3 separate regions of the Homo sapiens genome follow, and regions 2 and 3 are each linked to region 1. The links come from fine-mapping of genetic effects on gene expression. A gene starts in region 1. Each other region holds a variant in brackets. All regions are shown on one strand. Distances are between the middles of the regions. Region 1 holds the start of PDZRN3 (PDZ domain containing ring finger 3). Region 2 holds the start of LINC02005 (long intergenic non-protein coding RNA 2005). Region 3 overlaps PDZRN3 (PDZ domain containing ring finger 3).

The links.
Region 2: its variant is fine-mapped to the expression of PDZRN3 in lung (TOPMed, PIP above 0.99). The same link has a PIP of 0.9 or more in visceral fat.
Region 3: its variant is fine-mapped to the expression of PDZRN3 in tibial artery (GTEx, PIP above 0.99). The same link has a PIP of 0.9 or more in aorta and gastroesophageal junction.

The regions. Positions count from the first base shown.
Region 1 is chr3:73,620,252-73,630,401 of GRCh38, reverse strand. PDZRN3 (PDZ domain containing ring finger 3) reads left to right here and starts at 5,461. Exons shown (of 10, transcript NM_015009.3): 1 at 5,461-6,299. The coding sequence starts at 5,577. PDZRN3-AS1 (PDZRN3 antisense RNA 1) reads right to left here and starts at 6,834. Exons shown (of 2, transcript NR_046681.1): 1 at 6,437-6,834; 2 at 2,503-4,990. RefSeq lists an enhancer at 7,528-8,042.
Region 2 is chr3:73,808,964-73,819,113 of GRCh38, reverse strand. It overlaps LINC02005 (long intergenic non-protein coding RNA 2005), which reads right to left and starts at 9,870. Exons shown (of 4, transcript NR_146637.1): 1 at 9,758-9,870; 2 at 9,004-9,052. The variant C/T (reference allele first, on the strand shown) is at 5,649.
Region 3 is chr3:73,510,856-73,521,005 of GRCh38, reverse strand. The region is part of intron 3 of PDZRN3 (PDZ domain containing ring finger 3); the gene reads left to right. Among named protein-coding and RNA genes, the nearest start is that of PDZRN3-AS1, 110 kb to the left of the region's middle. The variant GACTCCGTGTCCTGT/T (reference allele first, on the strand shown) is at 4,197.

The DNA of each region.
Region 1 (10,150 bases):
TTAAGTTAAGCTACTTCCCCTAGGTTAATCAGGTTGGCCTGCCCCTTCTTCCTCCATTTTTCTGCCTGGAATGGTTGGCTGTGCAGCAGCTATCTCGCTCCATGAAATGAGCATAGACGCCAGGCCCTACAGATGGTGGAGCAGAAAGAGAAAAGAATCCTGAGTCCCTGGTGACCTGGAAGCCACTATACCAGCCTCAGCCTGCTAACAATGGCTCATATTTTTTCACTTGAGAGAGAGATTAATTTCTAACTAGTTTATTCCATGGTTATTTGGATGTTCTGTTATGCTCAGCTAAACAATTTTTTTGTTCCACATGCATGTATGTATGCACGTACATGTATGTTTATAAATACATAGGTATGTATGTGAACATTTATATGTATATATACACATGCATAGTCTATACAAAGCCTACCAATTCGCAACCAGATAGTGATCTACTTATTCATGTGGGAGTTGGCTGTTCATAATTCTGAATTGATTTTGTTATGGGAACAATGTTCTAAATGTTGATAGGTACTCCAACTAGGACACAGAGGCCTATTTAACTCATACTGTGATACATATACCTCATGCTGGTAGTACCAACCCACGCTTAAGAGCTGAGCAGCAGGAACTTACATGGAGCAGGAAGAGGGAACAGTTATTTGTTCAATATTTATTACGTTTCTACTAAGTGTTAAACATGGGGGACAGAACGTGAACACGATTGCCCTACTCTATAATAGAGTGTAATATGTGGCATGGACACTAGACATTGATCAAGCTGTGCTCCTCTGCTGCCCAAAATACTTCAGTGCCAATCAGCACTAGAATCAATTCAATCTCTTTCCTCCACAGGTCCTGCAGGCCCGTGTCCATTTGGTTCTCGCCTACTTTTTACCCTTGTTTGATTCTTCTTCGCTCGGCTTACTCTGCTCCAAGTTCTAGGCACACTCTGTCTAATTCAAATAGACCATGTGCTTGCTTCGAACCTCAGCACTTTCTCTTGTTCTGCCTGGATTGTTCTTCTCCCAGCTATTGCTGGCTCAGTCTCACCCTTCAAGCGACAACTCACACTTCCCCTCCCCAGACAGCCCTATTTCAAATGGGCCCCTTTGATTTTTCTCCAGCATGTAAGCTGCTTTTATGGTGTTGACAGCAGTGATTCTCAAACTTTAAGTGCACACAAATCACTTGGTGATCTTGCTAAAAGGCAGATTCTGATTCAGTAGGTCCAAGGTGCGGCCTGAGATTCTGCACTTTCAACATGCTTCCAGGTTATGCCCATGTTTCTGGTCCCCAGACCACACTTTGAGCAGCACTGTATTAGGGAACTTATCATATTCCATAATCATCTCATTTATTATTCATTTATTGATATCTGCTGTTCCTTATCGTGAAATGAAGGCTTAAGAGGGGAGGGACACTGCTTATTATTTTTGGTAGCCTTTGTAGCCCCAGTGCAAGAACAGCCTCTTCTTTGCATATAATAGCTACTAAATAATTATTAGATAAATTAAGACATTTCAAGTGTGATCATTGTTATACAAGGGTATGTGCTTGGGGCTGTGGAAACTAATCCCATCTGGAGAGTTGGGAAAGGAGAGCCAGACTTTTGCAGACCAGAATTTGCTCAAATTTGTAAGAAGTATTTTCGCAATTCTTGTTCTTCTGCCTAGTGTCCCTACTGTGATAACTCATCCTGACTTACCAAAGTCTTCAAAAGTCTCCAGAATAGAGAACTACCTTCTCTTCTCCCTACCTTTCAACCCATGGCCAAACGAATGTGTCAGGCTCCAGGATGGCTAACATTGGCTATGTTAACAGGCAAGCAGTCTGACCGAAATGTTTCACACTTGTTTTTGTGGATGACTGCTGTACCTTATTACGCTCTGGTGGTACTTTCATTTGGTAAAAGCAGATCCTTATCTAATTGTATAGTGCTATTTTAGCTAGTAGAATACAAATATGTACGCCTGGGGAAGAAAATTTAAAAAACAAATGTAAAAACCCTTGACTTTCTTTTTGTTTGTTTTTTCTAGTACTGAAGCCACAAATTATCCAGACCCTACGAGCAGCTGAGGATTGATAACCAGCAAACATGGAGGGGTGGAGTTCTTATCCATATCATTTGTAAGGGAGTGCCTCCTGAGCTGGAGCTTATGGAGGAGACGCATAATGCTTATGGTGATTAAGAGTGAGGGTTCTGAAATTCTCCTGTTGACATCCCTGACTGGAGGCATACCTTATGTAACCTTATAAGGTACCTACGCCTACTTAGATATCTTATGTAACCTCTATAAACCTCAGTCTCTCCATCTGTAAAACAGGGTGGACAACATATCTACCTCTCTATGTGCAGTGAGGATTAATGAGACAATGAAGGTCAAGTGCTGAGCACAGTGCCTGATACCTAGTAACAGTTCCCAAAAAAGTGGTAGATATTATTATCAACTTCTGATTAAACATGCTGATGGAAAGAACACTAAAAACAGAGTTTAAAATCAGAATGGGATCGTGGTGAATATAGAAATAGTATTTTTATTAGGCTTGGGGCCACATTTTGGTTAGAAAGTGCAGAATCAGATGATAAAAGGAAGGGGTAAGAGCAAGAGGTAGTGGAAGTCGCAAAAATAATTTGCAAAGTGACCAATCCAGCTGTCCACAAGGAATTCATCCATATATAAACACTCAGATGTTTCTGGGACGGTTGAGTAAGTATCTAATCCATGTCAGAAAAATCAGCTACTTTTCTCAGGAGGCCTGCCACACCAAACATTCATCTTCCTACAGTTTTTATTCATGTTTATTGGTATGGTGCCTTGAGTTTTCGATTTATAATAACATCCCTCTCTCACTGTGCAGCATTCACCAGGTGGTTCCACAGCCAGCAGAAAATGTGGGCTGACAGCATTGCCTGACTTCAGTAATGAGCAGAAAGCTTCCTTAAAACTGTGGTTCTCAACCTGGTTGTCACAACAAGGGGTTGTTACTATGTCTATTGGATAGTGGCCAGAGATGCTCCTAAATATCCTGCAATGCAGACGATAACCAACCCCCCACCCCCACACACACCACAACAAATAATTATTTGAATGAAAATGTCAGTAGTACCAAGGTTGAGTAACTCTGCCCTCAACTCCTTTTTCCTAATATTTTTGGCTCTCGTTTCTCCTGTTAAGTTTGGTGACTGAAATAATAGTCTTGCCAGCTCTGACATTGTAGGATTTTTTTTCTAACCTCCAAGAATTTTGATACTAAAATTAACCATTGAGGAGTGGCACAGACTTTCCTTTTGCCTAAAGAGGCCAATCCACAGTAGGCTATGGCTTCTCTGTGGCCTCAGCTGTAGCATTTCAGCAACAACCTCTCAATCTGCCATCTGGGAGACCACCCGAGGGGTGGTAGAACATCTCCAAAAAAGTGTACACCCCAAGTAAGCACTAATTTACATTTATGGTGTAGGACAGAACTTCTCTGTTTCTCAAAACCAGTTTGGTTTGAAGATTATCACCCTGTTGACACTAGCTCATTCTGTGAAACTGACAAGCCCACACACCTTTGGTGAAAGAATTTGTTTCCTACCCATTATCTGAGAGCCCATGAGCAGTTTAATGAATATACTGATGGAGGATTCCCTGGCACAAGCTTATCTGAACAAAGGCCAATAATATTCCACCCCATGCAGAATCCTATCAAAGCAATGCATTAATTGATTAAAGCAATTAAAAGAAAGTCTCCACCTCAAATAGGCAACAAATGCCACCAAAACTGATTAAAGAACACTGTCCAGTGACCTCAACCATGCACTGAAAAATCTAGTGAGTGACAACTTTTTAAAGGTCAGTGTGAAACAAGTAATCCTTATGAACATCAAGGCAATTCTTTCACTCTGATGAAGCAGTTAAATAGTGAAGGTCATGGGGCTTTAGCAGCCACATAAAAGAAAGAAGGAAAGCAATTAGACAAAATGGATGCTGTAATCCCACTTTCCAGGCCCCAGAGTCTCGCTGAATACAGAGCTCCTGCTTTACTGTTCAGAACTCTCCCGCTTCACTGTTCAGAAACTGGAAGCAGATTCCAAATGAGAATTCCATAGCTTGATTCCACTCTCACCAAAAGCTGACTGCGTGTTTCTTAGGAATGTCTATAGCCTTGGGAGGTAAAAATAAAATAAAATAAAATCAATGGATGATGCTATGAACTTTACACCCAGTTTGGAATTCCAAAAATATTCCTCCATTGCTCAGGACTGTTGCTGAATCCTACCCAGCCAGGTTTGCTGTACTGCAGGGAATGAATGTCCAGATCTATGGATCGCCAGGGTTTTCCAATCAAGTGGGAATCCAAGGACCAGCATGGACTAGCAGCATTGGCATCACTTGGAAGTGCTTTCAGTATGGAGATTCTCAGAACCCGCCCCAGACCCACTGTATCAGAACCGCAACCACATTAAAATGTGAGAAACACTGACCTACAGGACCCTACAGGGCACTTTTGTTTTGTTTTGTTTTCTGTTTTGTTTTTATCCTTCTTCTAGCCTGAGTTTCCTCAATGGAAAGATGACAGAGTGTACACACAAAACAAACCAAAACTGAAGGAGGGCAGTTGTTGACATGATCATGGGGGTGATGAGTCTTCTCCCAGTTCTAACTTCTGCAGTCAGCATCGCTTCTTTTGTAATCACGGGAAAATAATTTTCAAATGGAGCTAACCCTCTCACAACATTGTACTAATGATCTTTAAAGCGACGGATTTAGAAGCGCTCAGCACCACGCTTGCCACACTGCAGGGCAGACACTTCAGAGGTGTTAGGTGAAGTGGATGGAGCCAGCACGCTGGCCTCTCCCACTCCGACAGCTGGCGAGCAGCTCTTGTCCACCAAAACTTCCCCGGGTAGATTCACCCACCGGTCCTGGAAACCTGCTAAATCCTGAAGGTTCACAGAACCTCTGGTCAGAACTGAAGTTGCAGCCGGAGCTTCCCGCAGGCTCTGTAACTTTCCCTGGAATGAAATAAATAAATAAAGACCGTAAGTGCTGAGATAGCGGGCCCCAAGATATTTTTAGTCCTCTGCAATCAGCCACTAGAGGAAGGGGGAGGGAGAAGGGAGTAAAAAAGTTTTGATCCGTTCGGGAAGGGGCTCGAAGAGAACCCTTGGGAGAAAGCAGTAGCCTCAGCTCCAAACTCAGCGAGCTTTTCTCGGCTGGCGTTTTGTCTCCTATAGCGTAGACTGTAAGAGAACAGAAAGGAGTTTCCCGAGAAGATTCAGGCTGGCGTCCTGGGCTGGCCCGTCCCTTCTGGCGAGCCTCAGTGTCCTCCCACGCGCTTCTGCCTTCCAGCCTCCTCCCTTTTTCGGGGGGCTGGCGGGAGGCATCCAAGGCACGATGTATGTGCGCTCGCGCTCGCGCAAATACGGCCGGAGGAGTCCTGTTCCTCGGGCATTTTCCGAGGAAGTCTGGATCAATTAGGCTCAGTCCGGGGAGAGCCAGCGAGCGCGCGGGCGGCGTAGCCGGCCTGTCTGGGCCGCCTCGTGGGGAGGGAGGGGGCGCCCGGCCGCCCGGCGGCGACCCCGGGGCCTGGCCGCCACCATGGGCTTCGAGCTGGACCGCTTCGACGGCGACGTGGACCCGGACCTGAAGTGCGCGCTGTGCCACAAGGTCCTGGAGGACCCGCTGACCACGCCGTGCGGCCACGTCTTCTGCGCCGGCTGCGTGCTGCCCTGGGTGGTGCAGGAGGGCAGCTGCCCGGCGCGCTGCCGCGGTCGCCTGTCGGCCAAAGAGCTCAACCACGTCCTGCCGCTCAAGCGCCTTATCCTCAAGCTGGACATCAAGTGCGCGTACGCGACGCGCGGCTGCGGCCGGGTGGTCAAGCTGCAGCAGCTGCCGGAGCACCTCGAGCGCTGCGACTTCGCGCCCGCGCGCTGTCGCCACGCGGGTTGCGGCCAGGTGCTGCTGCGGCGCGACGTGGAGGCGCACATGCGCGACGCCTGCGACGCGCGGCCAGTGGGCCGCTGCCAGGAGGGCTGCGGGCTACCCTTGACGCACGGCGAGCAGCGCGCGGGCGGCCACTGCTGCGCGCGAGCGCTGCGGGCGCACAACGGCGCGCTCCAGGCCCGCCTGGGCGCGCTGCACAAGGCGCTCAAGAAGGAGGCGCTGCGCGCTGGGAAGCGCGAGAAGTCGCTGGTGGCCCAGCTGGCCGCGGCGCAGCTTGAGCTGCAGATGACCGCGCTGCGCTACCAGAAGAAATTCACCGAATACAGCGCGCGCCTCGACTCGCTCAGCCGCTGCGTGGCCGCGCCGCCCGGCGGCAAGGTAGGCGCCTGCTGCCCGCCCCGACCTCCAGCCAGGATCCCTGGGGACCCAGGGCCCCGCCCCATCCCTTTGGGTACAGGGATGCCCCGAGCTTCCCGGGAACATCCTTGCTTCCTCCCTCTTCTTCCACTGCTTACCAGCTGTATCACTACTTGCAGGTCGCTGAACCTGCCTGAGGTGGAACACTGTGGTCCTTTATAGTCTAGACGTAACCGGTAAAGTATAGCTGTACAGCTTCAGGGATTCTGGAAGGACGAAAAAGAATTCACAAGCAAGTGTAGGATAAGAATGAAGAATGCAGCTCCAGAGTCAAAACTGCGTTCAAAGGCTTTGCTGCTCAGACCAGCTAGGGGATCTCGGGCAAGTTGCTTACCCTCTAGAGGTCAGAAACCTATAGACTGACACTTAGGAGAGGAGAGATGGACACATTGGGTGAATTGTATCCGTGCATCCTCTAGGATTCCAGAAAAAAAAATAAAGGGAACCCACAGCCAGTGTAGATTAAGTTAAGAAGGATATCAGAAGAGAGGCCTCTGGGGTAAAAGCTGGATGCAAGCGTGGGCTTTGCAGCCAACTAGCTGGCTGACCTTGAGCAAGCTGCTTAACCTCTCTAAAGTTGGAAACTATGGTCCCTAGAGACGTGGTATACAGAGTAAAAACACAGCCAGGCACCCCTGAGGTATTCATCCAGGGATTTCAGAAAGAATTAAAGGAGCACTCTGCCCCCAACAAGTATAAAGTAATAATTAAGTGTGAGTCCTCTGGAGTTAAAACTGTTTTCAAATCTGGGCTTTTTGCTGACCAGCTGGGTGAGCTTCTGGCTTAATTCCCAGATCCCTCAGTTTCCCTCAGTGCGAAAGGTTTTTGTCAGGCTTCAGGGAGAGAGTTTAGTAGAAGGGCCTCGTACTGTGCCTGGCAGAGAGTAAATAAATGCTCAACAAGTGTTACCTAGAATTATTTTTAACATCTCCACCTGAGCGGTCCCCTTGAGCGAGGGTTTACTTTGCTCCAGGCTGGGTGCTGCATTCTTCCCAGTCATTTCCTTTTTAATCAAGTGAGGTTGGTGTGACCCTTCCCACTTAGTAGATGAAAAAACTGAGGCTCATTAAGGGGCAGTTTCATGCCTGGGTCACAGCTTTTGGGTGCAAAGCTGCATGTTGAACCTTTGCGTGCCCATCTTTCCAGCCCACGTTCTATAAACTATCATGTTGCTCCTCAGTGCAACCACAAGGACCATTTATTGAGTGTTTATTAAGTGCCACCAACAATAGGAAGTACTTTACATGCATTACCTATGTTGTCCTTTGAGATGAGGGAACAGACTCAGAGAAGTTATATAACTTGTCCAAAATTAAGTAGTGACTCAGGGAGCAGAGCCGGACTCAGATTCTACCTCAGAGTTCTCAGTTTTGGGGCATATTGGCATTTTGGGCCCCATAACTCTTAGTTGGGAGGGGAGGTACTGTGCTGTGCATTGTAGGATGTTTAGCAGCATTCTTGGCCTCCCTCCCAAGTCGTGACAATCCAAATATTGTCAAGTGTCCTCTGGAGGGGCAAAGTCGCCCAGGTTGAGAACCACTGGTTTCCCTGATTGCAGAAGCCACATTTTCAACAGCTGGGTACTTCTGCCTTCCTGGGGAGGGGCCTGGGCCTGCTGCCACCGCTCTGGTTGCCTGCTCCAGATGGTGTGGCAGAAAGGGGAAAATATTTGCCCGAGGCTCCCCCAAGGGCCTGTGTCTGCTTTGCCTCTCTCTGCCCTCTCCCAGCCCCCTTTCCTTACGTGCACACCAGGCCTGCAAGTTTTCCGACCTGGCCCCCCTTCCTGGCCCCTGGCCTGTCTGTCAGCTGCAGTCTCAGCAGCTGGCCAGCTCTGGGCGAAGGGCAAATATTTACAGCTCCACAGCTTGCCCAGGACCTCACAGGCACACAAAAGACTGGTGTGAGCCTTCGAATCACCAAAACAGAGGGCAAAGCTTGGTCTTCAATCAGGCGCCAGATTTAGGGTGAAGGAGTTCCCGAGTTTCTGCTGTTTATGCTGTCATCTGGACTTCCTTCGTCGTTTTAAGTGACGCTTATTTATAAATAAGCCATTCACTGCCCCAGAGTTTATGCATCATTTATTGTTGAGCTAGTTTATTATTTCTTCTTAACTTTCTGTTTTCTTTCTGGAGTGTTTGGGTAAAATCTCCCTCAGAGTCAAAAATATGATACTTGAATCAAAACTGTGGATGTTTTTGAGGCTCTGTTGAGTTAGTGGGTAGCATAAAGAAGGATGTTAAGCTTAGAGACAAGATGTTGATTTTGAACTTACGGAGAAAGGTTTGTTCCGGTGTTGGAGCCCTGCTTGGAACTTTTACCAACCTCAGTGCCAGCCTTGAGAACAGCAAAGGATGGTCTGGCCCAGAAGCTGCCCTAGATAGTTTCCCTGGCCTCAGACCCAGCCTGGCCTCAGCTGAGGCCTTAGGGAAGCTTGCTGTCTCTCCTTGCCCCGAAATTAACCCTCAGTGGCCCTTACTGAACGCTTTTGCTGTTCCTGGGTCAACCATAAAACTCCTCCCATTGGAAGCTGTTTAAGAACTTGTTTATTTCATTGGGCCGGCTCTCTGCTCCTGCTGGGTACTGTTTATTCTCTTCTAAAAGGCAGAAGGATTTATATGTCCTGGAAACTCTCATGTGCAACATTTTTATTTTCTTTTTAAAATAAGCCCTAATGTTTGCTTCTCTGTTATAAGCTGAAGGAGATTAGAAACACTCAGATTTTCAGTACCAGCTCTTCAGCAGCCTAGAACTTGCACAAATGATGTGGCATTCTTTAAATTATCTTAGGTTTCAGTTTTTTTGACACCTGCTGAACGCTTAGGGTTTGTTAGTGCTGTACCAGCATAGACGTTGTCTCTTCTGTTCTACCATGTGAGCTATATTAAGGATTCTCAAGCCTTAGCGTGATTGGAGTCACTGGAGAGCTTAACACAGATTCCTCAGTCTCACCCCTAGAGATTCTGATCCATTAGGGCTGGCCAGGGGCCTGATATTCTGCATTTCCAATGAGCTCCCAGATGATGCTGGTCCTTTAAGTAGCCGCTAAGCTAGACGAAGAGCTTACGCTCAGGTAGATATAGACCAAACATGTATTGGTCTTCACACAGTTATGGTTTCACTGGTCATTGTCTAAACACCTTCCTAAATTTCTTAAGACCAGGATAAAATTTTAAAACCCAGACTGCCTAGGCCGGGCTCAGTGGCTCACGCCTGTAATCCCAGCACTTTGGGAGGCCGAGGCAGGCGGATCACGAGATCAGGAGATCGAGACCATCCTGGCTAACACGGTGAAACCCCGTCTCTACTAAAAATACAAAAAATTAGCTGGGCGCGGTGGCGGGCACCTGTAGTCCCAGCTACTCGGGAGGCTGAGGCAGGAGAATGGCGTGAACCTGGGAAGCGGAGCTTGCAGTAAGCGGAGATAGTGCCACTGCACTCCGGCCTGGGTGAAAGAGCAAGACTCCGTCTCAAAAAAAAAAAAACAAAAAAAACCCAGACTGCCTAGCAGTTAAATGACAGGTAATCATAGCCTAGACAGGCATCTCTGATCTCACTGAGGCCACATCTGAGCTGCAGCAGACTTGGGATTGCTACACTTGAGTGAGTTAAAGAGTTCTGCTCCCAGCCTCAGTTTCCCATCCTGACTTACCCCCTGATTCTTAGAGCAAAAGCACTCCAGAGCAAACATCTTTTTTGCTTTTCTTTCTGGGAAAGGAACAATTCTGGACATAACTTTCCTTGGATTGATTGAAAAACTTGAGATACATCCTCGATACCTTTTGTTCTTTAACCTCCCATCCGGTCTGTCTTTG
Region 2 (10,150 bases), 190 kb before region 1:
AGATGTTTTTTTTACTTATCAGGCAGGTCAATATCAAAGAAAAGTCTCTTTGTGAACAATGACCTGGTGATTTTTCAAAAATGGAACAAGAAACTTTCATGTCACCATGAATTTAATACTGTCTCTTGTGTTTTCCTTTGCAATCTCTTTGATTGGATTATGTTCAAGGATACACGGGGCTCTTGTCTTTTGAGTGCATTTAAGAGTTCATTTTCCAGCTTTGACATTCAGCTCAGGAGTTTCAACAGCAATTAATCAGAACTATCCATATCAGAAACATTGTTAATCTTTACCAGACAGAAGTCGTTATGTTTGCAACTAAACTTCAATAGACTCTTTGGACATAGGATTTATTATTTTGCAAATGTTTTGAAAGGGAAGACATAGCTTTGAAGCAGAGTCGGAGAAACAGTTTTAAAGAGTTAGAACCAAAATCCAAGAGTCACTCAACCAGACCTGGAAGGAAACATTTGTTTCTGCTGCAGGTTATAAGAATAGTCACTTCAAGGTTGAACATCATCCAAGCGTGCATTAGGGTATATGGTTATTCATCCTCCAAATTTCAGTCCTCAACCCTTCTCTGCCCTCTCCCCTGCATGAGCTCATTTCTTCCTGATTTCAATTATCACCTCAGTGCCTCAGTGTAGATGATTCACAGATTCACTGGTTACCCAGCAGGTATTGAATTTTCACTGCAATAATACATGGCATCACAATAGTTTCCATTTGTTGAGTTCTCACTATTGTCAGATGCTGGGCTAACCCTCTCTGTGCACTGACAGGATTAAAGTAGGGTGGTTGGGATGGTGCATGGTCTGGAGGCCAACTGCCTGGGTTCAAATCCTAACACTGCCACTCGCAAATTTTCTTACTTTGGGAAAGGTATTCAGTTCTCTGGCTCTGCTTTCTTATCTCTAAAATGAATATGAAGAGTACCTACCCATAGGGTCTTGTTTGTTTTGTGCTTAGAATTAAATAAAAGATTCCACGTAAGATACCTTACTCATAGTAAATTTTCAAACATTGGTTATAATAATTGTTACTAATTATCACTCTTATTTTTTATACAATGACACAATATTCCTAAGATGAAGGCACTATTTTATCCAATTTAAAAATATGCCTGTCTTCTTAATCAGCATGATAAGGGCCTCTCTAAATTATGGCCCATGGGAATAACGCGTTGTTAGAAAAGATATCAGTCCTAGACTGCAATTTGCAAGAATATGCAAATAAGAGGATTGAGATAACCATAACAATCTCACAAAGTGCTATGAGAGCTCAAGATCCTAAATGTCTATCTGTAGCTTTGTTCCCCTAAGGTGCTCAGAGTCACAGAATGTCAGAGCTGAAAGCACAGTAAACACAAAAACATAGAACTGTAATCACAATAAAATGCTCCATTTAAAACAAATGGTATTCATCTCAGAGGGTCGAGGGATGTGATGAGAGTCACACAGTTAGCCACACAGGCAGAGCTGCAGACCCTGGCCTCTACTTACTATGTGGATGCCCCACCATCAACACTTTCCAACATGTCGAAATGTAAACGTATCATTAAACACATTCATTACCTATTTGCTACTGTTTGGAAAGTCCCATGTTTAGCAAAATGCTCTCTTTCTTACATACACCACATTGCAATTCACCAAAACTATCCACATTGGAAATATTTTTACAGAAGCAGCTATGTATGCAACTAAATTTTAATGGGGTTCATCATTTTGCCAATGCTTTGAAAAGTGAGGTGATATGGTTTTGCTGTGTCCCCACTCAAATCTCATCTTGAATTCCCACGTGTCATGGGAGGAACCTGGTGGGAAGTAGTTAAATTATGGGGGCAGGTCTTTCCTGTGCTGATCTCATGATAGTGAATGAGTCTCACAAGACCTGATGGTTTTAAAAATGGGAGTTGCCCTGCATAAGCTCTCTTGTCTGTCGCCACGTGAGATGTGCCTTTCACCTTCGCCAAGTGGAAATGTAAATCCAATGAACTTCTTTCTTTTGTAAATTGCCGAGTCTTGGGTATGTCTTTATCAGCGGCATGAAAACAGACTAATACAGGAGGCATGGCTTTGAAGCAAGGTGAGAGAAGTGCTGCTTTTTGAAGTGCTCAGTTAAAACAAAACACCAAATTGTTTGTTGAACTAGTCCTGGAATGAATCTTTTGTTACTGCTGCAAGATATGAGGAGCTCATCCCCTCATATCCTGTCCAGCAGGAAATTCTGTTGGCTGGTAACATGTCCAGAATCTGACTGCTTCTCACCTCTTCCAGTGCCACCACCCTGTTCCAAGCCATGAGCATCTCTTGCTTAGTGTACTGTGGGGCCTCCTACTTATAAAATCTGCCTTGACTTTTACACCTTAAAGTGTATACTTCACAAAGAATAGACTCCACAAAGTGATACTTTTAAAACAAAGTCAGATTATGTACTTGCCATATAGAAACCCCCAATGCCTTCCCATCAGACTCGGAGAAAAACTCAACTCCCTTCTGATGACCTAAGGTTCTACACTCTCTGCTCCCTACCCCTACCTTCCCTGACCTCATCTCCTACAGCTTGCCCCTCATTAATTCACTCTAGCTGCATGAACCCCCAACTACACACCCCCAGCCCCGCATTCCTTAAAACTTTAGAACCTTGCCCTAATTGTTCCTCTGCTTCTCCGACTGGAGCAATCTTCACTGAGATACCTGTGTGGCTCACTCTCTCACTTTCTTCAAGTCTTTGCTCAAGTCCCTCCTCAGTGAGACTTAGCTGGATCAGCATGTTCAATTATTGTATGGGGCCCGGAATGTGCACACATACACACCTGATTCCCATTAACTGCAGTTATGAATTTATATAGCATCTAAAGTAAACCAGGATGTGTTTTAGAGCTAAAGGGGATGCTGCTAATAGTTATGCTGGCACCACAGAAATAAACTAAGCCTGCCTTGGGCAAGCTGGGACATATATCCACCCACATATAGCATGCTCAATTTTTTTCCCTTGGCATTTATTGCCTTTTGACAAACTGTAATATTCACATATTTCTGATGTGTTTCAGTTATTGTCTGTCTCTCCCTCTTAAAGCATAAGCTCCAAGAGAGCAAGGACATCAGTTTCTTTCTTGATGTATTCTAAGTGTCTAAAATAGTGCCCAACAGCCCGGAACAGAGTAGATTCTCAATAATATTTTTCAAAGTAAATGAATAAATGATATAAGGAAGTCAAAGATTATCTCAAAAGTTCTTTCAAACTTTTAGCATCGGATGCATTTTTCAGTTCAATTCTATCAAAAATGGCGAAATGAACAAGATGAATATGCAAAACCAAAATTGGCATCAGAGCCATGAAATTCTAGATTCTTAATACTGGATCTGGAAGAGAAATGAATGGATGATCTGGCTCTATTTTCATTCCTTGAAGAAAGCAAATGTTTAAATCAGTATTCTCCAGTTATTTTCCTGCTGTCCATCTGTGTTAGTCCATTCTCACATTGCTAATAAAGACATACCTGAGACTGGGTAATTTATAAAGAAAAGAGATTTAATGGACTCACAGTTCCGCATGGCTGGGGAACCCTCACGATCATGGTGGAGGGCAAAGGAGGAACATAGGCACATCTTACATGGCAGCAAGCAAGAGAGCTTGTGCAGGGGGAACTCCTCTTTATAAAACCATCAGATCCCATGAGACTTATTCACAATCATAAGAACAGCACAGGAAAGACCCGCCTCCATTATTCAATTACCTGCCACTGGGTCCCTCCCATGACATGTGGGAATTATTGGAGCTACAATTCAACATGAGATTTGGGTAGGGACACAGCCAAACCATATCACCATCCTTGAATGTCTCTGACTTGCTCCTTTTCATGTTTAAAAAGCTCAGGTGGAAATTCTTTCCTAAAATTTCCCATTTTCTTCACTCCCTCAACCTAAGAAAAGTCATACTCACAAGACAATGTTACTGTTCTCTTATGATGTTATTTCTGTACCTCGTACATGTTCTACAAATGTATATGTCTCCTTACATACATTCTGCCCTGTCACTTTCCACAGTTTACTATTTATAACATCTTCCATGTCTTCCCTGTGCCTTCAGTGGACTCTAAGTTTCTTAGAAACAGGTGCTCTAACATTCAGTTTTGACTTCACAACAACTAGCACAGTACGTGGTACACAGTAAGCATCATACTTGTATTCATCAATCTGAATTGGACTTCATTTGATGACTATTAGATTGGATTCAATGGCAACTGCACTAACCAAACTACCCACTCAGACTTGGCTGTGTGACTGCTACATTCCAGTTTAACTCTTCAGACTTTACATCATTGTAATATCAAAGGCCCTTTCTAGCACAATATTTTCAATTACTTATCATTTCTTTCCCTACAACTGACCCCACCCCCAGCTATACACGATCTTTAAACACTTGTTGCCATATTAGAGAGGGCTACTGTTTTCCCTGTAATACTAAAAATAAGGAGTCTAAATTGGGTCCTTCTATTTATTAATGAATAAAACAATTATTAAAAATGAATTTGAAGCTATCAAATCTAATCTATCTTTACATGAAAACTCCTGCAGTTGTATTGTCAGTCATAATTTCCCACATGCGTAATGGAATACATACACACCCATGTATCTATCCCTAAAATATATGGAATAGATATTACCAAAACACATATTCTAATTCCTTAAGATTATTTTTTGACCCTCTAATATTTTGATGCCTGTTGGCCAAGTCCTTATTGACTGTGTTACTGAATAATTTGTCCATCTCTGCTCATATTCTCTGCTTCTGAGTGATTCATCATATTTCATCCTGAGATGCTTTTATCATATGTTTAGTACCACTCATCTCTGTTTCACCTTAATTATATTCAACGTCTACTGTATTCTTAGCTGGAAACCATCTCCTTTTCATCCCTCAAAGCCTACTTTAGATCTGACTCTCCCAACAATGAAATGCCCAGAAATACCTGAAATACAGCATATCATCTAGGCAAGACTATTCAGACTTGCCATTAGCTGTCAAGTTTCATGTATTTCGCCTTCTACAAATCCATCCCTGGAGCCTTCTGCCATGAAAGTATCCAATGTGAATAGGTGTTAATCTCCATCCTTTTAAAATCTCCCCCCATTTGCTCCATCAGAGAATATAAAATGTAGCATATTTTCCCCCAGACTTTCCCAGCATGTTTCCTTTGTTCAATCTAGAATCAAGCAATTTAAATGACAGGTACACTTGATTTAAAGTCTGCTAACTCCCCTCCCCACCAGTAATTCCAGATTCTATCTCCCTTAAATCATCATTCCAACGAGGAGTCGGGAGAAATAGACAAACATTACTGAAAATCACAAAGGCAAGTTTCTCACCAGGTTGTGTATATCATCAGATGATCTTGACAAAGTCCAAAAGCCACCAGGGGTATATTGGAAATAGTTGCAAGGGTCAAGCCCTCACAATTACCAGAAATTCAAGCTGCCTTATGTATGTGTGGAAAAGATGTGTAAACTACTGGCTCTCCAAAGCACCTTCAGGAAAACATCCTGTTCACTCAGATGATATCTGTATTTCAGCAAATGTCAGCAAGTCCACATACTTTGGCAGAACAAATGTTATTTTTCCTTTCATTACTGTCCTAAGAGGAA[C/T]TGTGCAATCCTATAGATTATCGCATGGAGCTCTCATTGGCATGTGGCCAAGGCTGAATACTCTTCTCCAGAGGAGGCAAATTGTGAATTAAATTCACCGCTGGCAAATTGCTTTTTGTGTTCGATTTAATTTCGTTTTCATGATTTTTCCTGAGGGCTCTTCCGGCCTTGCTCAACTAACTGGTTTAACAGATCAGTTTAAGTTCAGAAAAACCTCAGTATTTCCAAGATTTCAGAATGCCTTTTTATTGAATTCCTGATTAGGACAAGTGAGAATAACAAATGTTTTACAGGTGTTCAATTCTCTAACACAGATATTGTTTAGAAGAAGGGGGAAAATCACAATAAATTACACTGGGCATAATTTTACTCAAATTTGGGAGCTGGGGAGACAGGGGGAGGAAGAGGAAGGAAGAGAATGAGTGAGCAGCTTTTCACTTAAAGTGAAAGTTACATTATCTGGACGGTAACTTCTTTAAAAGTACATTGTGGGGTGGGGGGAGGGGGGAGGGATAGCATTAGGAGATATACCTAATGCTAAATGACGAGTTAGTGGGTGCAGCACACCAGCATGGCACATGTATACATATGTAACTAACCTGCACATTGTGCACATGTACCCTAAAACTTAAAGTATAATAATAATTTTAAAAAAGTACGTTGAACAGTCCATGAGTAGCAATAATAAGACAACAAAGAAAATGAAGGATACATGTTCAAAAGAAGAGACGTGGAGCCGTGACTCAAAATGTACAGAAACTTCTTTTCCATTCACACGAACCAGGCAGAACAGTTAGCTGTGAATAAACTCAAGATACCAGACTGGCTCCATTAATGAAACATTATCACTGGAATAATATAGTTCATAGATTTTAATGATAAACTTGGGGGATGTGTTAATTGCCATTAGATTCAGGTGCATAGAACACATACATGGAAATAAAAATTGAAGTAGTTGAAATGAGGCAGAAATGTATATCTTCTTTACATCAAAGAATTCTGGACATAGATAGTCCAATATGGAGGGAATAATTCCCTACTCACCAAGGACCCAAACTCTCCCTATCTTTACACTCTACAATACTATTATGTGTCTTCAATTCTTAACGTTGCTTCATGTTCCAAAATGGCTGCTGAAGCTACAGCCTTTATGTCTGCTTTCCGGGCAGGAACAAGAGGGAAAAACAAAAGGCAAACACCTCTTAGCTGAGTCAGCATTATTTGTAGAACCTTCCTAAAAGAAACACCCTACTAGCTATATACATGGAGAGTGGAAAATGTAGTATTTTAGCTAGACATCCTAGCCAAAATATTGGTGGGAATTACATCCTAACCAAAATGTTGGTTCAGGAATATGGCTATTGATTAGGCAGCTTCAGTCTCTGTCACACGAGTAAAGTAATATTTTTATGAAACCAGAGAGGAGACACTTTGAAGTCTGTTGGCCTCTTTCGATCATTGTCCTTATCTTACATAAATAGTTGCTTAATGCAAATGCTTATTTGGTTCTTTTTATTTTATGGCAAAACCATCCTATGAACAAGTAAAATGTCATGCAAGAGGACACATTGCTGGCTTCTCACAAAATGGTAGTGCTACCCTCAACATGTCACCGGGAAGCCTCATCAGACCAAAACTACCCATAATATATTGCCTAAAGCATCCATCATAAAAGTTATTGCTTCTGCATCAAGATGATGTGCTTTTAGGAAATCTCACTTACAGTGAGTATGTGTTAACCGTTATGCCATTCAGTTCCATTAATCCATTTCTCTGTATTAGTTTATCAAATTAAATATCGTCATGGAAAATATAGAGCAGGGCTCTGAAGGAATAGAAACAAGTTAGGTACATTTCCAAGAGGTAGGCGGGAGAGAAGTTGAAGGCAGGGTGTGAAAATGAGGGTGAATTTGGGAGAATCCACCTAGCAAGGCAGAGTATGTAATAAGAATTTCATTTCTGATTAAATGAATGAATGAAATAAAAATACATGCACAGAATAACTTCTCAATAAACCTTTCTGGTTGACTATCAGATAAATGCATGAAGAGATAGATTAATGTATGAATAAATCCTCAAAGGTGAATTTTATCAGTGATGATTCTTTTATTTCTTCATGCCACTATCCTTGCTGTATGTGTGCTCCCTATAGCCATCATTGGGAGTTGTTGATTATGCTAAATATTAGAGTAACAAATACAAAAAGGACACTCAGAACCATAGATCACATCCCAAGCTAAGCGCTGAAGCACCAATGAGGCTGGCCAGAGAAGTAACCATTGGGTTATTACTATCAGCTTTAACATGTAATTATTTCATCCAGCACTGAAACAGAGAGGCACTCAAAATATAGACACTCAGCATAAGACTAACAGACAAAGACTTTCTATGCACTTAACTATGCACTATATCATAACTTTGAGTAGGACTTCCTTTTCTGGTTTGGAGGCTGTGTGGTATAATAGTTAAACACATCAGTTATGGTTTCAGGAAAATTTGAATTCAAATGCTGCATCTCCACTTGTTTCACAGCATTGAGCAAGTTACTTAACTGTTTCACATCTAAGTTCCCCCATCTTTAAAATGGAAGGAATGCTATTGCCTACCTTGTAAGTAATTGTGAGGAGTAAATGAGGACTCAATGATATCAGCCACGGTTATTAGTCATTATGTGCTGGGATCATGAGGGACTGTATAAGCCAGAGTTCTTCTGAGAAACAGAACCATTAGGAGACATATATGAGAGAGAGACTTAGTTCAAGGAATTAGTTTATGCAACTGTGGGGGCTAACCAGTCTACATCCGTAGGGCAAGCTAGCAGGCTGGAAATTCAGTTGTGTTGGTGTTGCAGTCTTGAGTCTGTAGGCTGGCAACTCGGGCAGGGTTTGTATGTTGCAGTCTTGAGTCAGAATTGCTGCTTTCTTGGGAAATCTCAGTCTTTGCTCTGAAAGCTTTCAACTGATTGAATGAGGCCCACCCACATTGTGGACACAAATATGCTCTACTTAAAGTCAACTGATTTAAATGTTAATCACATCTAAAATATTTTCATAGCAACATGTAGACTGGCATTTGATGAAACAACTAGGTGCCATACCCTCACCAAGTTGACACATAAAATTATCACAGGGACACAATAAATATGCCCATCCACACCCGCATTCTTCACAGAGAAACAAGACATAAGAGTTGCAGATTGGAAAGTGCAACTCTAACCTGTATGACAGATAAAGACTAGGATGGAAGCTGTGGTTTGTATTTGCAGGATTCAATGGCTTCAGATACTCCCACCCGCCACCCTCTGGCAGGTAGGTTAACACAACCAACCCAGGCAGTGGTGCCACATAAGACTTACAGCACGGAGAAGCTGGGAAGAACTCACATTTCTGCTGATGAGTTCATATCTGAGAGGACAAAAAGGAGGAGCTAGTTTTTCTTCTGAAATTTTCCAACCAGATAAGTCCCTCCTCCTTGCTAGGGTAGAGACAGTGATGCCACAGGTGAAGCCCCCACTGTTTCTGTCAATTGCACCCTTTCACAGAAAGGAACTATCATGAGCCAAGAAGAAACATTTCCCTCAATATCCTCCTCTCCTCACTACCGCCATTGTTTTTATCACCAGCAGACCGTACTGTTTATATTTCTTGTTGGGACCCTCTAAGTCTTAGCCTCTGAAATTGAAACTCTGGAGGGTTCTGAGGCTTCCAAAACCTAAGGAAATTTTCCAAGACATATCCAGAGAAGTACAATCCTATATTCAACCAACAGCATATTTCCTCTATCCTAGAAATCACCCTTCTTCCCCATCCCCCAAAAACTTCAGTTGAGAACCAGCTAGAGTTTACAGCACCAGGTTTAGTGTGGATCTCTTGACACCTCTGAAACAAGTTCCCCATCACATGGGAAAACTGCTCTGTCCTTCCACACCAGTCCTGGGAGCCTCTTCCAGCTTGATGCTGAAGAAGCCTGACATCCCCCAGGTAGGGGACAGCCGAGATCTCTTGGGCTCTGTTGGGGCCCGCTTAACTGTCCTTTTAAAGCACGCACCTTTCCCTCATCTGTAAAGAAGTCTGAGGGCAGAAACCAGATGTGCTGACCTCACCTCTCACCTCTCTCCCCCTGGCCTGGAATCCAGGGTTGTTCACTTCCTATTCACAAGAAGCAGCTTGCCTGGGCAAGACTGGTGTCATACTTCGTTTCAGTCAGCACAGGAGAGTGGAAAGTTGCCCGCAAAAGGCAGATGAAAAATTAAAGTGATCTTTGGCCAGCAGATTCGTTCAAAATGCAAATCCACTCGGTGCGTAGGAACAGTATGGCACAGCCCCCATGTGGGAGATTAGAATGCAGCCTTTCACCACAGCTCTTTATTCCAAAGCCGGCAGAAACTGGCTAGGCTTGGCGTTTATCTTTTTGCTCTAAAGCACGTTGGGGAAATTCCTGAATGAGTCCCTAAAATTCCCAGTGATTGGGGAAACCTGAAGGAGTCTAAGGAGCCACTGTAT
Region 3 (10,150 bases), 110 kb after region 1:
GCCATGTGCAACACATTCCTTCACTAGCTCCTGTTCTTAAATGTAGAGGTTCTCCGGGGCTCTGGCCTCAGCCCACTGATTTTCCAGTGTTTACACGCACCTTGAGTGATGTTATCCTTGCTTGTAGTTGTATTACCATCTGGGTGCTGATGGCTTTTGAATCAGTATTGCCAGTGAGACCTGCCCCCTAGCTTCAGGTTTCTTCCTCAAACTACCTCCCCAAGGGGCTCACCTCTTCCTTATCAACACCTGCTTGCCCCTGCTCCCCCTACCCCTGCTTTCATTTTTTTCTGTGTGTGTGTGCTTGTGTGTGTACAGACACGCATGTAATGTAGGACCTGGGAGTCTTTCATTGTCCTCCTTTTTCCTTTTCCCGCCCCTCTGCTAATTGAGACCCAAGTATCTGGAGGCCTTGATTCAGGGTTGGGCTGTAAAGACAACTTGGATTCTATTCAAAGAGTCTTTTACTTTAGTTCACTCTTGTTGTTGTTGTTGTCGTTGTCACAGGGTCTTGCTCTGTTGGCTGGGCGGGAACATGCAGTGGTGGGATCTCGGCTCACTGCAGCCTTAGCTTCCCGGGCTCAAGCGTTCCTCCTGCCTCAGCCTCCAAAGTTGCTGGGACCACAGGCACACGCCACCACACCCAGCTATTTTTTCATTTTTAATAGAGACAAGGCCTCACCATGTTGCCCAGGCTCCTCTTGAACTTCTGGGATCAAACAGCCCTCCCACCTCAGCCTCCCAAAAGTGCTGGTATTACAGGTGTGAGCCACCACACCTGGCCTAGTTTACTCTTGATATAGCTAATTAGCAGCCCCAAAGATATATAGGAGACAAAGCAGTTTGATATAGCTCTCTGTTACCTCTTTCTTCTCTAAGCAGAGTGCCAGGGGTGTCTTTCCATATGCAAACCTGATGATGTCATCTGCCTGCTTAAAACTCTTCTGTGTTCCCCCCTGCTTTAAGGGCTGACAGGTATGGATGGGATGCAGGTTTTGCAGTGCGCCACCCCCAAGGAACGCCATTCTCATCATAGTCTATGTGAATAACACCTCCTACAGCTGCAGGAGCATTGTACAGCCTGTACTGCTGTCTATGGCAGCTCTGGCCAGTAAGGTCTAGCAGTGCTTGGCCTTAGACTCCTGTCCCACCACATCACATATGACCCTCTCCCTGGTAGATAATCCCAAGGTTTCTGAGTCAGTAGTTCTGGGGTCAGGTATAAAAATCTGCCCTCCTATCACATTCCCGGGTGATGTGATGCTACTGTTCTGGGGAACACACTTTGAGAACCACTGGCATAGCCATAGCTTGACGTAACTTGATGTTTTTTCTGTTACGACTCTTTACTCACTTAGGGCTTCCAGGACATGCCTGGACATGGGCTGCCTAACCCAATTTTGCAAAAGCTGGGGGTATCTCCATTTTATAGAAACAATTAATGATCCCACTTACTCTTTTTAAATTAATATTGAACTCTCCATGAAGCCCATAAACACATTCCTTGTGGAAGAACTTGAAACAGTACAGATTAGTCTAAAGTTCCTTCTTTCTCTCATCTTTGCCCCAGAAGTTAACACTCTTGTCAGTTTGGTATATATCGCTTTTAGACTCTATTCTGAGTTTGCTGGTAGAAAATAGCCTTCGTGCTGGCATTTCCCCCTCCTCTTACCATGAATCACATCATACTGAACCTCCTGTTCCACAGCTTGCTGTTTTTCATTCAGCTGTATGCTCTGGCCTCCTCTTTACGCTGGCGTGTATAGATTTTGCTCAGTCTCCTTGCTCTTCACAGCCACTCTTTCCCACCCTACTTTCTGCCCAAGGGACTCCATCAGCCAGTGCTCCCTGGCTTCCAGGTGGGTGTGGCCAGTGGGAGGAGATCAGAGTGAAGTAGATAAGTGAGGTTGGGGTCTCTCCCTTCGAGGTGGTCTCATGAGGGCTGTGGCTGTGGAGGGAAGTTTCCTGAACTCACTGCACCTCTTCCAAGCACATTCTGCCCTCTGCACCCACTTTGCAATTAGACCTGATTCATCTTAAGTACGTCACTTGTCTCCTCAGGGAACCTCACTACATAGGTGCTATGGGCTGGATATTTGTGCTCCCACAACATTCATGGGTTGAAACCCCATCTTCACGGTGATGGTGTTAGGACGTGGGGATTGGGGGAGGTGATTAGGCCATGACACCTCTGCCTTCATGAATGGGATTAGTGATTATAAAGGAGGCCCCAGAGAATTGCATAGTCCTTTCCACCATGTGAAGACGGAAGGCAACATCTATGAACTGGGAAGCAGGCCCTCACTAGACACTAAATCTTCCAGTGCCTTGATCTTGGAGTTCTCAGCCTCTGGAACTATGAAAATAAATGTCTGTTGTTTATAAGCCACCCAGACTATGGTATTATGTTATAGCAGCCCAAGCAAACTGAGAAAGTAGGTATACCTCAGTCTTTTTTTTTAAGTTTTAAAAAAATTATTGTGGTAAAATATAAATAACATAAAATGTACCACCTTAACCATTTTTAAGTGTACAATTCAGTGGCATTAAGTGCATTCATGTTATTGTACAACCTTTACCATTATCCATCTCCTGAACTTTTTTATCATCTCAAACCAAAACTGTATCTGTTAAACGATAATTACCTATTTTTCCTTCCCCCAGCCCATGGCAACCACCATTCTCCTTCCTGCCTCTTGAATTTGACTACTCTAGATACCACATAGGTGGTATCATACAGGATTTGTCTTTTTATGACTGGCTAATTTCACTTAGTGTAAGGTCCTCAACATTCTTCCATGTCATAGCATGTATCAGAATTTCCTTTCTTTTTAAGGCTAAATAATATGGCATTGTATATCACATTTTGTTTATCCATTCATCCACTAAATGAACACTTGGGTTGCTTCTACCTTTTGGCTATTGTGAATAACACCACTATGAATGTGGGCATCCAAATATCTCTTCAAGACCCTGCTTTCCATTCTTTTGGGTATATACCCACAAGTGGAGTTGCTGAATCATATGGTAATTCTATTTTTAATTTTTTGAGGATGGCCATACTCTTTTCATCTCCAGTTATGTGTATTCTTTGCTTTGACCTGAAAGACATAACAGTTATAATTGCCCTATCTGTATGGTATCCCACATCAAAGAAACTTATTTTAGTCGTGCATGTGAGGTCAGCTGTTTTTGTCTTAACCATTTATAATTTTGATGCTGGAAAATATTTTGGTGCACAAAACATATTACCAAAGTATTATACATTACAGAAACTCTACATCGTCTTGCTTGTGAAATGTGAAGCCATTTTCAAAGCAGATGTGTAAATTACAGATATGGATTCAATTATATGGCATACTGAATATTTTGATTGCCATTGCTATAGATTCTACAAATATCCTGTAGTTTCCTCCCTGCCATTTTGAGAATATTCTCTTGTGTACATTTCATTCAGCCTTTTAAAGAATCTCTTAGCATCCTTTGGGGCCTAAGCCTCGCTGTGACGTTAACTTTGAGGGCTTTTGTTTACCTAGTATCTGTTCTTCTATAAGTAAATTTTAGGTGCCAAAGAGCTCTCGATAATTATGCAATGTTTTGTTGAGAGCTCTTTCACATAGAAACATGACCAGCATAGCTTTTTTCACATAGAAAGAAGACCTGTTTGGAAAATCCTTGGCAAACTAGGATTATAAATTTAAAAGAAACTGTGATTTGTTCTGAATTGTATTATAACTTGCCAAAAGTTAGTCACACATATAAATTATACAGGTTAACTAAGTTAGCCAAAGTCACAGGGCTAGGAAATGGAGGATCCAGAATTTAAATGTGGATCTTTCCACTGTATCACCTTTCTATCCTTCCACATGTGGCCACCTGTGATAGGGTAAACGCACACACACACCTCCTTTCAGATGTTTGGACTGTTTCAACATGCCCCAGATGGGAAGTGAAATAAGCACTTTGTATTCTCCCTTTCGTGATGGAATTTGGGTTACTGGGATTGAGGAGGGGCCACCAAAACTTCAGCATGGCTGTGATAACCGAGCACAGCAACTTGTCCTCATTTTCCATTGTGTGTAGTGTTTGCTTTGACCCGAAAGGCTCCTCATAGCCCATTCCATAGGCACATGAGCACAGCCAGCACCAGACCAAGACCATAAATGGATCTGTAGAAGGTTTGGGCAGGTGTCCAG[GACTCCGTGTCCTGT/T]AACAAGTGTAAACGTTTTCTGGAGTGTTTGTTTTAAATGTCAGAACTTGAGGATAATTTTGGCCAGGGTTGTTTTTACATTTTTCATGGATGCCTATTTATAGGTCTGAATCTAAATCTATTTTTTATCCAGCCTACCCAGAAACCATAAAGAAAAAGATTGGTCATTTGACTATATAAAAATTTAAAACTTATGTATGGCAAAAAACATAACAAACTAGCAAGAGGAGATGAAGGGCTAATTTTCTCCTTTCTTAACGTGTTTCTACATGTCAAGGAAAAAGACACACTACCCAATAGAAAAGCAAGATAAGAATATAATCAATAGACATGTGAAAAGGTACTCAACTTCATTCATAATTAAGAAAATACACAACCAAATGATGTTGGCAGAGATGTAACAGTTGGATAATAGGCAACATTGATGGGTGTGTTGACATAAGCACTCATAAACTGTTGGTGAGAGTTTACATTGGTGCAGCTTTTGGCAATATCTATTAAAATTAAAATGTTCATTCTGTCTGGCTTATAAATTCCATAATCTATACTGTGGATGTAATCACAAAAGAGTGTGCCAAGATATGTATGTATACAGGCACACATACATGCACACAAGAATGCTACTTGTAACATTATGCAATGGAAACCCACCACAACAATATATCCCTTCCTCCCAAATTAGAAACAAGATAAATGTTAAATAACAATACATCTATACGGCAGGAAGCCCTATTAAAAAGAATGAAGTAGAGCTCCAAACGCTCAGTTAGACAGATCTACAAACTTTGTGGCAAGCATTTATAGAAGTTATTTCTTAAAATGAGATCTCTATACTGGTATATGCTTTTATCTGAAAGGATACATTAAAAATGAGCAGTAGTTAAACTTTGGGGACTGTTGTTTTAGGTATGTGCATAGGCCTGGTTTGTCCTGCTTTTATTTTGTACTTTTTAAAAGGACTTTTCACCCATGCATTATTTACTTAAATTAAAATTTGATTGAAATCCATGTGAAAATGGTTCTAACAGTTATAGATAACTAAATTTAGCTTTAAGTCTTGATTTCCTCTCTGCAATATAATTGTCCAGAGCTATGCTTTTGGAAAGGAAAAAATGGAGCTGAGAGCTGATTTCCAGAGTATGATCTAGATATATCCTGGGCTCTGCTTTTCTGTGGAAATCGATCTTTAAAAAATATTGGGTGGAGTTAAATTTGAAATAGAGATTCTGTAACGGGTGGATGAGGTCATTTCCTTATAGGAACTTTTTGGAGTTGGGAGAGAAGCACATTTATTTCTAGGTGTTTAAGAAGGGCTGATTGGGCCGGGCGTGGTGGCTCACGCCTGTAATCCCAGCACTTTGGGAGGCCGAGGCAGGCAGATCACGAGGTCAGGAGATCGAGACCATCCTGGCTAACATGGTGAAACCCCATCTCTATTAAAAATACAAAAAAATTAGCTGGGCATGGTAGCGGGTGCCTGTAGTCCCAGCTACTTCGGAGGCTGAGGCAGGAGAATGGTGTAAACCTGGGAGGCGGAGCTTGCAGTGAGCCGAGATCGCGCCACTGCATTCCAGCCTGGGTGAGAGCAAGACTCCATCTCAAAAAAAAAAAAAAAAAAAAAAGGGCTGATTGTTGGTGGAAAAGGAGGCTCTCACCCAATTACCTAGTCAGAAAAGGACACCTAGGCTTTTGTGTCCTTGGAGTCCTTTGTTTCTATACCACCAATGAATCTGTAGGGGTAAAGTACTGGGGTGGAGTGGTTATTCATGTTAGAAAACAGTATAGGGGGATTTTGTTTTACAATCAGGTATGCTAGATTTAGATGTGGCTTCCATCGCTTTCTCACTTTGTAATCTAGCTGAGTTTGTTTACTCGTCTGTAAAATGGGTTTATAGATAATATCTCCGGTACAGAATTGTTAAGTGCTAAATGAGATTATGCAGGTGAAATGCTTGTCTTTGTACCGGGAACATAGCCTTTGTATCTGCCATTATTGTTGGACTACAACTGTACAATTTTAGCTCAAGATTGTGTTCATTTCTGCCAGGATGAAACCAGCAAGCTTAGTTCATTGCTTGGAATTCTGATAGTTAATTGGGTTATAGAACCAGCACTGGTCAACCAGGAAAGCCAAGTCAGAAGATCAGCCCTCAACCGTTGGCTAGGTGCCTGATGAGAAGTGCAAAATATAGAAGATTCAGACCAATTGGTTGAAATTTCTTACATCATATATACTGGAAATGTAGGAATTTAAGTATATTTGTGTATTCATGGCCCTTAAAGCCCAAATCAAGACCAGAAAAGTTGCCTAGATAAGATGTGAGTAAACCCTAAGTATCACTCTCCTTCCTCGACCCAGTCTTCCAGCCCAGCCCTTTTATCATTAACTTTTCTCAACCAAAATCTTGATAGAACTGTATTTTATTGTTACACACATGCACAGATTACACATTATAGTCCATTTGCGTAATTCATCCATCTGCCTCAGACCTGCCTTAACCCTGAAGAGTAGTTTAGGGTCATCTCACATGTTTAACAGCATCAATTCCAACTTGAACTAAGTAGAATAAACAGATCCCAGACCTCCTACCTTAGAGACCCAGCTTTTCAATCTTTTTTCTATCTTCCTTTCAACATGATCAAAGCAGCATTCCCTAATCCTGAAGACAACACAAGTACTTCTAAGTATCCTTTGTTTGTCTTGCTTATCCCAACCAAGGGTAATTTTACATTTGCATTACTAATCACCTTCCTAAAATGCATTGTTCCTAAAATTAGATTAAATGTCTCTAAATGGTTTTATTTTGTTTGACAGTGGCAGCCTGACCCTTAAATATCCTATCTGTGAATGTACCAACTAGAAGGACATAGAAACCTTGTATATAGAAACAAATAAGATTCTTCTATTTTGTCATCTCTGAAGTATAATTTCATCAATGCACTTAAATTTTGTGGGTGTCTCTTTTCGGGTGCAATAAAAATTCATCCAAGAACAACAAACTAAGCTATTACCAATTACCATTCAACTGTGGGTCAGAATATTTTAGTCTAGTGGGAGAGTAATATTTCTTTGGTTGGTTCAGTAAAGGTTCAAAAGTCTGAGAAAATTGAATGAGCTTTATGCTTAGGTCTTAGTTCTGGACCTCCATGTTAAATTCTTGGTTTGAGGCAGGGAAAGATGAAAACTTACTTGCAGTGTAGTTAGTGTAGAGAGAGAAAACAGTGGCTGTAGTTAGGAACAAGTGAATGTTAACAAGTTTGCTTCTCAGGGGCATTGGTTAAACAACTTCTTAACTGGCCAGGGTCCAGCACGTTAATCATTAACCTAGGGCTGAGCATCTGCTGCCTGATGTATCCAGAATTAGTTTATCATTACCTCTAACGACCATCTTTTATGGTTCCGAAGAGCCTCTATGCAGTCTCTTATCACCGCCATGCCTAATCTTCATTTACCGGGAGCAGTGTGCTGATGTTTCTTAGTTAGACCAGAGTAAGAAGTTTATGGTCAGTTGATGAATTTTTAATTATAACTGTTTAAAAAGAAGACGATGACTATGAACAGCAGCTCACTCGTAGCAATCTTTGGACAGTACTTCGAAGTGACCCACTTTCCCATTTAACTCTTGGGAAGCCTGGGTTGCCCTGTTTTCGACTTTGGAGGTCCGTGGGCTAGATTCAGAGTGCCCTGGCAGGCTGGCTTGGGTTTGAGGCTGTGGCTGCAGCCTCCGCAACACCCTATCTCAGCACCTGGGAACTGGCCCTTGGTACCCGATTCTTTCTTCTTTGTGTGTGTGTGTAAATCATTTTCATTTTTTCTAATGATCAAAGTATACATTAAAATAAATGAAAGCAATACAAGTCCATGTGTATGGTAGAAAATCTGGACAATACTAAAAATGTACAGAAATGGCTTTTAAAGATTAATTTTCAACCTATAAACTAAGCTACTTTTCATTTTAGTGTCTTTTTAAAAACAGCTTTTAAAAACATTTTAAAGGGCTCATCATGTTCAAGAATGAGGGAATGTTTGGCTACAAGGCCTTCAGTATGACTCTATCCTATAGCTGGAGGTTTAATAATCAATTATATTAAAGCTTTTCTAAGCCTCCAGAAGGGTTTGTCTGGGTCTTATTTACTATAACAGGCAAGTTAAAGAAACTTGAGTTTAATTTATATTTCAGTTCACTTTTTTTAGACAACAAGTGCAATTTGGGCTTTATTTATGGAAGGAGAGAGTTGTCCTTCTCCCCGGAAAAAAAAAAGAAAAAAAACAACTAAAATTCCCATATGACGCTATTAAATGCCTGCCATTGGGTTTTATGTTTCCAGGATATTGTCCACATAAATATATGCAATGTTAAAAGAATGTGGATGCCTAGTAGCGTGTACGTTTTAGCCTTCTGAACCAAGGGTTTATGAAACTGGTTGAAGAGTGTTTTATTGAAACAAGACAAATATTTATGAACAATTTAGAATCATCTGTTTTGAAATGTAAAGTGCGTTCCTAGTGGTGCACAGAGTTCCAGGTGTTTCCTGTCTGAATTTGGAACGGTTCGCTGCTGTGATGGGCTTACAAAGTTGTGCTCTCCTAGCTTTTAATCAGAACTGAAGAATCACGCAGCTTCCCTGCTAATGCCAGAGCAACTGAAAGCACTCACAGGAACACACTTGATTAAATGAGTAGAAAGCCTTCTTGAGACACCTAGGTGTGTGTATGCTGAGCTGTTACATTTGTCATGGAATTAACAACAATAACAAACTTGCTTACCAAAGGAGCGCGTTAACTTCTGCAAGTGTATAAGTGTATAGGCTCTGCTGCTTAAACACATTCGTACCAATCAGAAGTTTACTTTCTGGTCTCTCTGGCTTCTGTGTTGTCACCATCCCTGGTTTCTGTGAAATGGAAATATTGTGTATTCGCCCAGACGGTTGGAAGCCGTTCATGTAAATATGGGCCGTTGTGATTTAACTGTCAGCCTGAAAGGCCCTACTTCCAAGGGCTCCTTTTAAACCAAGCACAATGAGGTGTCTGTTTTAGATGCGGCCGCCAGTCCTTGGTTGCAAATACATGGATTTGTTAGCCGTTTGCCAGCAGAACTGCTTTTTACAACATGCCCCGCTTTGTCTGCTGGCGTGGTGGACGGTACTTTAGGGCAGTGAGAAATGCTGCCATTATCTGCCTCCATCCCCAGATCTGTTCCCCTCATTGGCTCCGGGTTGGGATTGTAGGGGGAGGCGTGCAGCAAATCATCTTCTCTAGGAGCAGTCAGAAAATAAGAAGGGAAAAGCTTGCCCCACAAAGAATGTCCAAATGCACAAGCAAAACCACATGTGAAATCCCACCACGTTCACCCCCTGGAAACCCAGCTCTAGAGGATGCAGACGGGGGGCCCAGCCGACACCCAGGGCTGGAGTAGAGGCGTTTTATAAAGGATGATCTTTTTTCTAGCATGGACAACAAAGGGCTAAGAGAGTCGTCCCGCTTCCTGCTTGGGCCTTTCTGTTTTTGGGTTGGCGGGAGCCTTCTTCAGTAGACTTCACTTTCCCTGATGGTGAGAGTGTCAGAGACCACGATGGGTTACAGGCTTGCTTAATTGTTTTTTACTGGGGGTAAGAGAGGGGTGAAAAATAGAGAAAAGCATGAAAGAGAAATGAAGTCACCATATTTCTGCCATAAAAAAGTAGCCACTGGTAACATTTTGCCGCCTCTGCCTTCAGTGTTTTGTTTTCTCCCTTTGTATATGTTAAAAGCGATATCTGAATATTTTTCCTTCATATTTTCATGTCAGAACTGTAGAGTATTTCAGTGGTCCCCCCAGCCACGGTTTCTCTGTCCAAGGTTTCAGCTGCTTGTGGTCAACCATGGTCTGAAAATAGATGAGTATAGTACCTATCATAAGGTATTTTGAGAAAGAGACCACATGCATATATAACTTTTAT